Homo sapiens: one gene and its partner. The protein of the gene in region 1 purifies or fractionates together with the protein of each later gene. This does not show direct contact. Each region holds a gene or a part of one and is shown on either strand. Other genes may lie near its edges.

Region 1 (3,826 bases):
TATAATTATTGCTTGTCAATTGAAAATGAAATTTTTAAAAGTAACTTTCTCAGAGAGGCCTTCTCTAACCATCCTCTCTGCAAAAGTCCTGCCCCAAGTGAATTTCGATGACCACACTCTGTGTATTGTTTACTTGCACTTACCCTAAACCATAAATGTTTGTCTGCATGTTCATGATTGGCCTCCCTTTGCCAGCCTGTAAGTTCCACTGGGGCCTGTAGTGGGCAGAAGTTACCTGAGAAGCCTTTGACTAACATTGGAGTAGGTCAAAAGATGGTAAGAGGTGATTTTTTTTCAAAGTCAGGGAATTCATATCAATGGAAGGTTGACCAGAGTTCCTGAAGAAGGAATTGTTAAATAAACTCTAAGATCCCTTCAACCCTAACATTTTAACTTTTCCATCTGGTATTTGAAAAATGGAAGGGGCTCAGTTCCAGTAATGACGGCATAGCCTAAGTTGAACTAAACCTCTCACAGATGATAATGATAAACTTTGGAAAAAATCTTTAAAACGATTTGAGGTTGCTGGAGAAAAACAAAAAATAGACAGGAGGTGGACAGGATTTGACCCTTGAAGGAAGGAAAACCACACCCACTTAGTGAAATATACATTTAGGTGGCTCTTCCCACGCCACCTGGCATGGAGCAGCTGGAACTCAAGTGGAGAGCTGCAGCTTTGCTGGTTTGACAAATCAGGGGGCAGAGTATAAGCTCACAGAGTGGCTGGAAAATGAGGACATCTAAAGAGATGCCCCAGGTCCATGTGCCCACTAAAATCAACTGGCACCTCTGTTGAACCTGTGATGGTTCTGTCTGTCTCTCAGCCCAAATCTGCTTTTCATTCCTGCCCACAGTTGTTGAGCATAGATGGAAGCACTGCCTAATAAACTTCCTGCTTGCAAGTCACCATGGGAGTGTCAGCTACCTGGGGAATTGGACTTGAAAGCAGTCTAAGTAATATTTGTAGAGCATTACACCCAGCAACCACAAAATATGCATTCTTTCCAAGTGCATCTGGAACATTCATCAAGGTAGACTGTATTGAACCATAAAATTAATCTTAATGAACGGCAAAGGTTTAAAACCTTATAGACTGTGTTCAAGAATCACAAATGAATTATATTAAAAGCATTAACAAGACAATAATTAAAAAGCACTGAAATTTGAAAATTAAATGCATGTTTTAGTAATACATGGGTCAAAAAATTATAAGGGATAAACAGAATAATTTAAAATGAATGATAATGAAAATATGTCAGAATTTCTGGGAGGGAAGCACATTGCTTTAAATACTTATATTGGGGAAAAAAAGAGTTTAAAATTAATGATCTGTGTTTCCAGCTCAAGGCTCTAGAAAACAGAATAGCAAATTAAACTTAAACCAAAAGTAAGGAGAAGAAAGGAAGTAATAAAAAACAGAAATAAGTGAAATAGAAAACAAACAATGGAGAAATTGAAAAGGCTGCAAGTTGGTGCCCTGCAAGAGTAATACAATTTATAAATTCTTAGCAACATGGATCAGTCAAAAAGAGAGAAAAAGCAAATTACCAATATCAGGAATATCAGGAGGAATCATAAGATCCTACAGAAAGGATATGTTATGAACAACTTTATGCCAGTAAGTTTCACAACCAAGATGAAATGGACAAAATGCTCGAAATCACATATTGTCAAAATTGAGATAAAAAGAAAAACAAAATATGAATAGCTTTATAAAAGAGATTGAATTCATTATTAAAAACTTTCCCACAAAGAAAAACCAACCCCAGATGGTTTCACTGTTGAATTCTGCCAATAATTTAAGAAAAAAAACACAATATTACACAGACTCTTTCAGAAAATAGAAAAGGAGGGAATGCTTCCCAACCTATTTTGTGAGGTTAATATTACCCTGATACCAAAACCTAGCAAAAACATTGCCAAAAAATAAAACCACAGACCAATGTTTTTTTGTCATGAACATAGACACAAAAATAGCAAAATATTATCAGATTGAATCCACCAATATATAAAAAGGGTAATACACTATGATCAAGTGGGGTTTATCCCAGGAATGCAAGTTTGGTTTAACATTTAAAAATCAATCAGTATAATTTACCACATTGTTAAGCAAATAAATGGTTTCAAAAACATATAATCCTCTCAATAGATTTAGTAAATCACTTGGCAAATTCAACTCCCAAATGATAAGAACTCTCATCCAAATAATAATAGAAGAGAACTGCCTGAATCTAATAAAGTGGATTTACCAAAAACCTCTAGTTAACACCACATTAATGGTGAGATACTGAGTGTTTCCCCCCTAAGATTCGGAACAAGGTAAGGTGTGTGTTTTCATGATTTCTGTTCAATATTGGAGGTCCTAGCTAGGACAGTCAGATAAGGGAAATTAGTAAAAGGCATTCAGATTAGAAAGAAAGAAGTAAAGATCTCTATTTATAGATGACATTATTTAAATAGAAAGTATCAAGGAATCTATAAACAACTAGTAGCAACAATACTTGAATTGAGCATGTCAGTATATTGAAAATAATATTATACTAGCAGCAAACAAATGGAAAGTGAAATTTAGAAAACAGTGTCATTTTAAAAACATGCAAAAAACCCCAAACGAAATAGGAATAAATTTAGCAAAATGTATGCGAGATCTCTATATTGAAAATCACAAAAAAATTTCTGAGTAGAGGGGTCTACTGTGTTCATAGAGAACCCAATATTGTTCAGTGACAATTCTACTCAGTCTATGCAATCTCGAACAATATTCCAACAGACTTTTTCATAAAAGTTGATTTTAAAATGCATATGAAAATAGGACCTAGGATATCTAAGACAATCTTGAGACAGAAAATTTAAGTTGGAGGACTCACTTTACCTGATTTTAAAACTTTCTGGAAAGCCATAGCAATCAATAAATGTAAGAATAGACAGAGAGATCAGTGGAGCATATTAAACATAGTCCAGAAGTAGGCCCACACATGTACAGCCAATTGGTGCCAACAAGGCCACCAAAGCAATTTAGTGGGAGAAAAATACTTTCATAAATGGTGCTGGCAACCTGGATAAATGAACGGGGCTGAAAATGAACTTCATACCCTACTTCATACCACTCAAAAATCAAGTTTAGTTGGATCCCCGACCTCAACAGAAAAGCTAGAACTATAAAGCTTCTACAAGACACTGTAGGATGGTATGATTGTGATCTTGGGGTTGGCAGATTTTTTTTTTTTTTTGGGACAGAGTTTTGCTCCTTTTGCCCAGGCTGAAGTGCAATGATGCGATCCTGGCTCACCGCAACCTCCGCCTCCCAGGTTCAAGTGATTCTCCTGCCTCAGCCTCCCAAGTAGCTGGGATTACAGGCATACACCACCATGCCCAGCTAATTTTGTATTTTTAGTAGAGACGGGGTTTCTCCATGTTGGTCAGGCTGGTCTCGAACTGCAGACCTCAGGTGATCCACCCACCTTGACCTCCCAAAGTGCTGGGATTACAGGCGTGAGCCACCACGCCCAGCCTGGCAGAGATTTTTAAGAACAGACACAGAAACACTAACCATAAATGAAAAATTTGATAAATTAGGTTTCATAAAAATAAAAGTTTCTGTTTATCAAAACATCTGCAGATATATATAAGACTTTATATATATTATATTTATATTATATGCATATATAAGTGTGTGTGTGTGTGTGTGTGTGTGTGTGTGTGTGTGTGTGTTTAGATACGTATATATGAAAGGATATGTAAAGTATTCCCAGTACCCAAAATACAGAAGTGTGGTCTCATCCTATAGTATAATTTTTTTTTCTTATTGGGATGCTTTTATCTCAAA
Region 2 (3,826 bases), on another chromosome or scaffold:
TGACCTCTCTGCTACCCTGTGCGGATTTTGCATGATTAGTGTCCACTATGAGATGACCTACTGCAGCATCCCAAGATTCCCCAGGCCAAGAGAATCCTGAGACCTGCTTCTAGGACCTGCTGTGCTCAGAGTAACTAGGGACCCAATTTGTTGTTTTTAAAATGAAGGAATTGAACTGCATGATCTGGAGCCCTTCAGAGCTAATATTCAGATATAATGCTGACTCTCCCCTGTGTGGAAAGTGGTCTAAGCACATCTGTCTCATCGGATGTAGGCTGCATTTGGAACATGTTTTCCATACACGGTAATGAGGTGCTAGCATTTCTAATAAAGTTTTCACTGTTGTGCAGGGTAGAACCAGAGAGACCACCTGTCAACAGTGACTTTCCAGGCCAGTCAGTGTCTGTTTCACACAGACTTAGATGTATGAACCTATGCAGTGAGATACCCTCGACACTCATAAGATACAGGGCGATAACCTGGTGACTTAGGAGCCCCAGTCAGTTCGTAGTCTTGATGATGCTTAAGCACATTGACAAAGGTGAGAATAAGAGGCAAAGGCCTTGAACTCTTCAGTGTCCTTGCTGAGAAGTATGAGTTTCTAAGACATGTGCAGAACAAGAAGTATGCAGCCTGAGTGTGACCGTAACTAACCCTGCTTGTGTTTCAGGCCCGCCATGTTCATAGAGGATAAAGCAGTAGACACCCTGGCTTACCTCAGTGACGGTGACGCCCGAGCTGGGTTGAACGGACTGCAGCTGGCGGTGCTGGCTAGGTTAAGCTCTAGGAAGATGTTCTGTAAGAAGAGTGGGCAATCCTATTCTCCCAGTAGAGTTCTGATCACAGAGAATGACGTGAAGGAGGGCCTACAGCGATCCCACATTTTATATGACCGGGCAGGTAAGTAATTCACCTGTGGAAAGAGTGAAACCATACGGAAAGAAGTGTGTGCACACATTCTCATTTCCGGAAGCCTGACTGGGTTCCGGAAGCATTCCAGCTGGGTCCAGAGCATTCCAGTGATTCTCAGGTGGATCTGCATGTTGGTATTAAGCCTTCTACACAGGGCTGACCTTTCCGAAGAGAGGCATGAAGCAGAAGCTGCCCTGTTGAGAATCTAGAGGAGTTTTGGGGTTGGAAATGGCAGGCTGCACATTCACCTTAGAAGGTAGTTGGCTATTCCCCACCTTGCAGAATACAATCACCTTTGAAAGCCTGTGCATTCACTTGACAATGAATATGTTTTGTGATCATTTACAACGGCAGTAAATAAAAAGAGGACTTTTGTCATAATGACTTATTAGTTTTAATTGAGAATTAAAATGCTTTATTTCTAGAGTCTATACTAAAAAATAGTCATGGATCTTGAAGTTTTTATTTTATGTAGTAGCTTTTTCAAAAATTTAATTTTGCTGTGTGCACTTATCTGTTTTTGTAGAACTGCATTTACAGATAGCAGATTTGATACCAGCTCTTATTAAATCTGTGACTTAGCAATATTAAATGTCATTAGCACAGCACATTTGCATCTTTTTATAAAAGAAGTGGGAGATGAATATAACATACTGTAGATTAGCAAACTTCTGCTGCTTGAGCATTTGTGGGACTTTGGATGGAATCATGTTGCAGTAACTGTGGAATATAATTTCCACACTTTTCAAAGCTCTGCCAGAAAAGGAGGCTGATAATTGAATGTTCCTGATCTCACGTAGGCTGTGCCACGTGACAATGGAGAGTCCTTACTGGTTAGAGAAGGGGTGGAGGGGCTTAAGAATGACTTTGGTTCCAAGCGCTGCCTCTTCGTGGGTGAGCACACTCGCTGCATGACCTAGGGGGGCTGACCAAAGCTTTTTGGCTTTAGCGTGCCTCAGCTGATGGTAGCTCAGGGGTGTTCATTAGTGCTAAGGACACACTGGCAAGTTGAATAAATAATCCTGTCTACATTGTGACGTGAATGTGCCTCAGCGGGGCCTGCTCAGATGGCTGGCTCTCCCTAGTGCTCTGGAGCATGACGTGAATGCTTGCAAAGTCTGAAAAGCAACACATTCTAGGTGTGTAGAGCCCTGCTTGACTTTTGGTCAAATAGAAAAAATGTAGATATGAACAAGAAAAAAGATTTTAAGACATTAAAAAAATCTCACCATGCCGGGATCGCCATTGTTTCTGAAGTGCAGCAGCAGCGGTCTCTCTCTCTCTTCTTGTAGGTGTCCCAAAGGATTTGCCTTGTTTTGATTGGAACGACTAGGACTGTTCTTTGACATTTTATCAGACTGTCACTTGAGATCCATATAACATGGCATTCACTAACACTCAGCCATTGAGTATTTTATAGGTGTATTCATTTTTTAAATTCTCAAAATTGCTTTATGGAGATAGCTATTAATATTACCCCCATTTTAAGATAACAAAGCAAGTGGTGAAACTGACCCGTAAATCCAGGTCTTACTGGTTCCCAAGACTGTCCTTCCCCCCGTCCGCATTTGCCTCCACACCAGCCTTGCCATGCTGTTACTGATCTCACCCATTACATCATGCTCCTGAGAGGGGTCACCCGTCCATGCACATACAGAGCGGATCTTGGAGGGGTTCAGTCCTAGGAATCCCACTTCCTGAGCTCCACGTTGCAGAGCTCTGCACAGTGGGGATCACCTTGTCTATAGCTTGGAGCTGGGGGGTGGTGGAGGCTGCCTAGTGCCGCTGCCTAGTGCCAGCGCCTTAAGAACCCCACATCCTATACATCTTCCCAGTATGAGTGTGTTTACACACCCCACCCCAGTGCAACATGTCTGCCCCACAGTGGATCCGCAGACACATAAATATCATTCAGATCTTGGAGAAAGCTGCTTTTACAGGCTTTGCTCTATAAATAGGGATAGTGGAAGCATTGCCCTGGAAACCTGTTAGCTTATACTCTTGGGCCTTTTTATAACTCCAGTGAGACAAAGACCCACCCCCAGAGTTGTGATTATTTTTGTATATGCCACCTAGTTCATAGTTACCCACTAGTAGGATCCAGTGATGTTTCTGCATCAGAGTGAAGGAATTTCTAAATGAGAGCAAACTCTCTGCCATGCATTGACATCGGGGTTCTATAGAAGTCGTCAGATTTCAGGTTATAAAGCAGTGTGTAATAAAAGCAAACATGGAAGGTAGCATAGAATAATACTAGTATCTATCACTGATGCAAAAGAATCTTTTTACAGTGCCTGCTCTGTGCCAGGCGTGTGTTATTTAATACAGCCCTGTGAGGTAAGTGGTCTCGTTTTTCCCATTTTACAGATGAGAAACCTGAGGCACAGTGAGGATCAGGAACTTGCCCATGGCCCATGAGCTTGGGGGTCCAGCCCAGGCTGTTTGGTCCCAGAGCCTGTGCTCTTGTCCATTATACTGGTGGTATTGCCCCTGGCATTGACAAAGTGGGAAAAGATGACTAACCTGTGTAGGGGGAGTTTAAATTTGACATAAAGTGGTGTGGGTAGTTTCTTCCAGCCCCCATGCCCGTGAGTTTAGCCAGGCCTGTTACCTGCTACCCTCTTCCCCGCCTTCCTCCACCCTGCAGAGGAGCAGAGCGTAGCCTGAGTGCCTGGGCCAGCAGGGTGAGGGAGTGGGCCAGAACCATGCAGATGTCATCCAGGACACCCTCTCGGCCAGTGTCCATAGCACTCTGACTTCACCAGGGGAGCCCTGCACAGGAGACACTCAGTTTGTTCTCAGAAATCCAGTAGCTGGGCTGACCCATCCATCTGCCCTGGCTCTCAGAAACCAGAATCACTCAGGCTGAGCCGTGGGTCCTGCAGGTCTTTCCCCTGTGGGAGGCCAGCATCTT

The links.
Region 2: the proteins of SYN3 (region 1) and WRNIP1 purify together in Homo sapiens (co-immunoprecipitation; one large-scale study listed by IntAct). This does not show direct contact.

The regions. Positions count from the first base shown.
Region 1 is NC_000022.11:33,009,637-33,013,462, reverse strand, and holds part of SYN3 (synapsin-3), read left to right. Parts: intron 1-3,826. UniProt on the Homo sapiens protein: May be involved in the regulation of neurotransmitter release and synaptogenesis.
Region 2 is NC_000006.12:2,778,593-2,782,418, forward strand, and holds part of WRNIP1 (ATPase WRNIP1), read left to right. Parts: intron 1-670; coding exon 671-900; intron 901-3,826. UniProt on the Homo sapiens protein: Functions as a modulator of initiation or reinitiation events during DNA polymerase delta-mediated DNA synthesis. In the presence of ATP, stimulation of DNA polymerase delta-mediated DNA synthesis is decreased.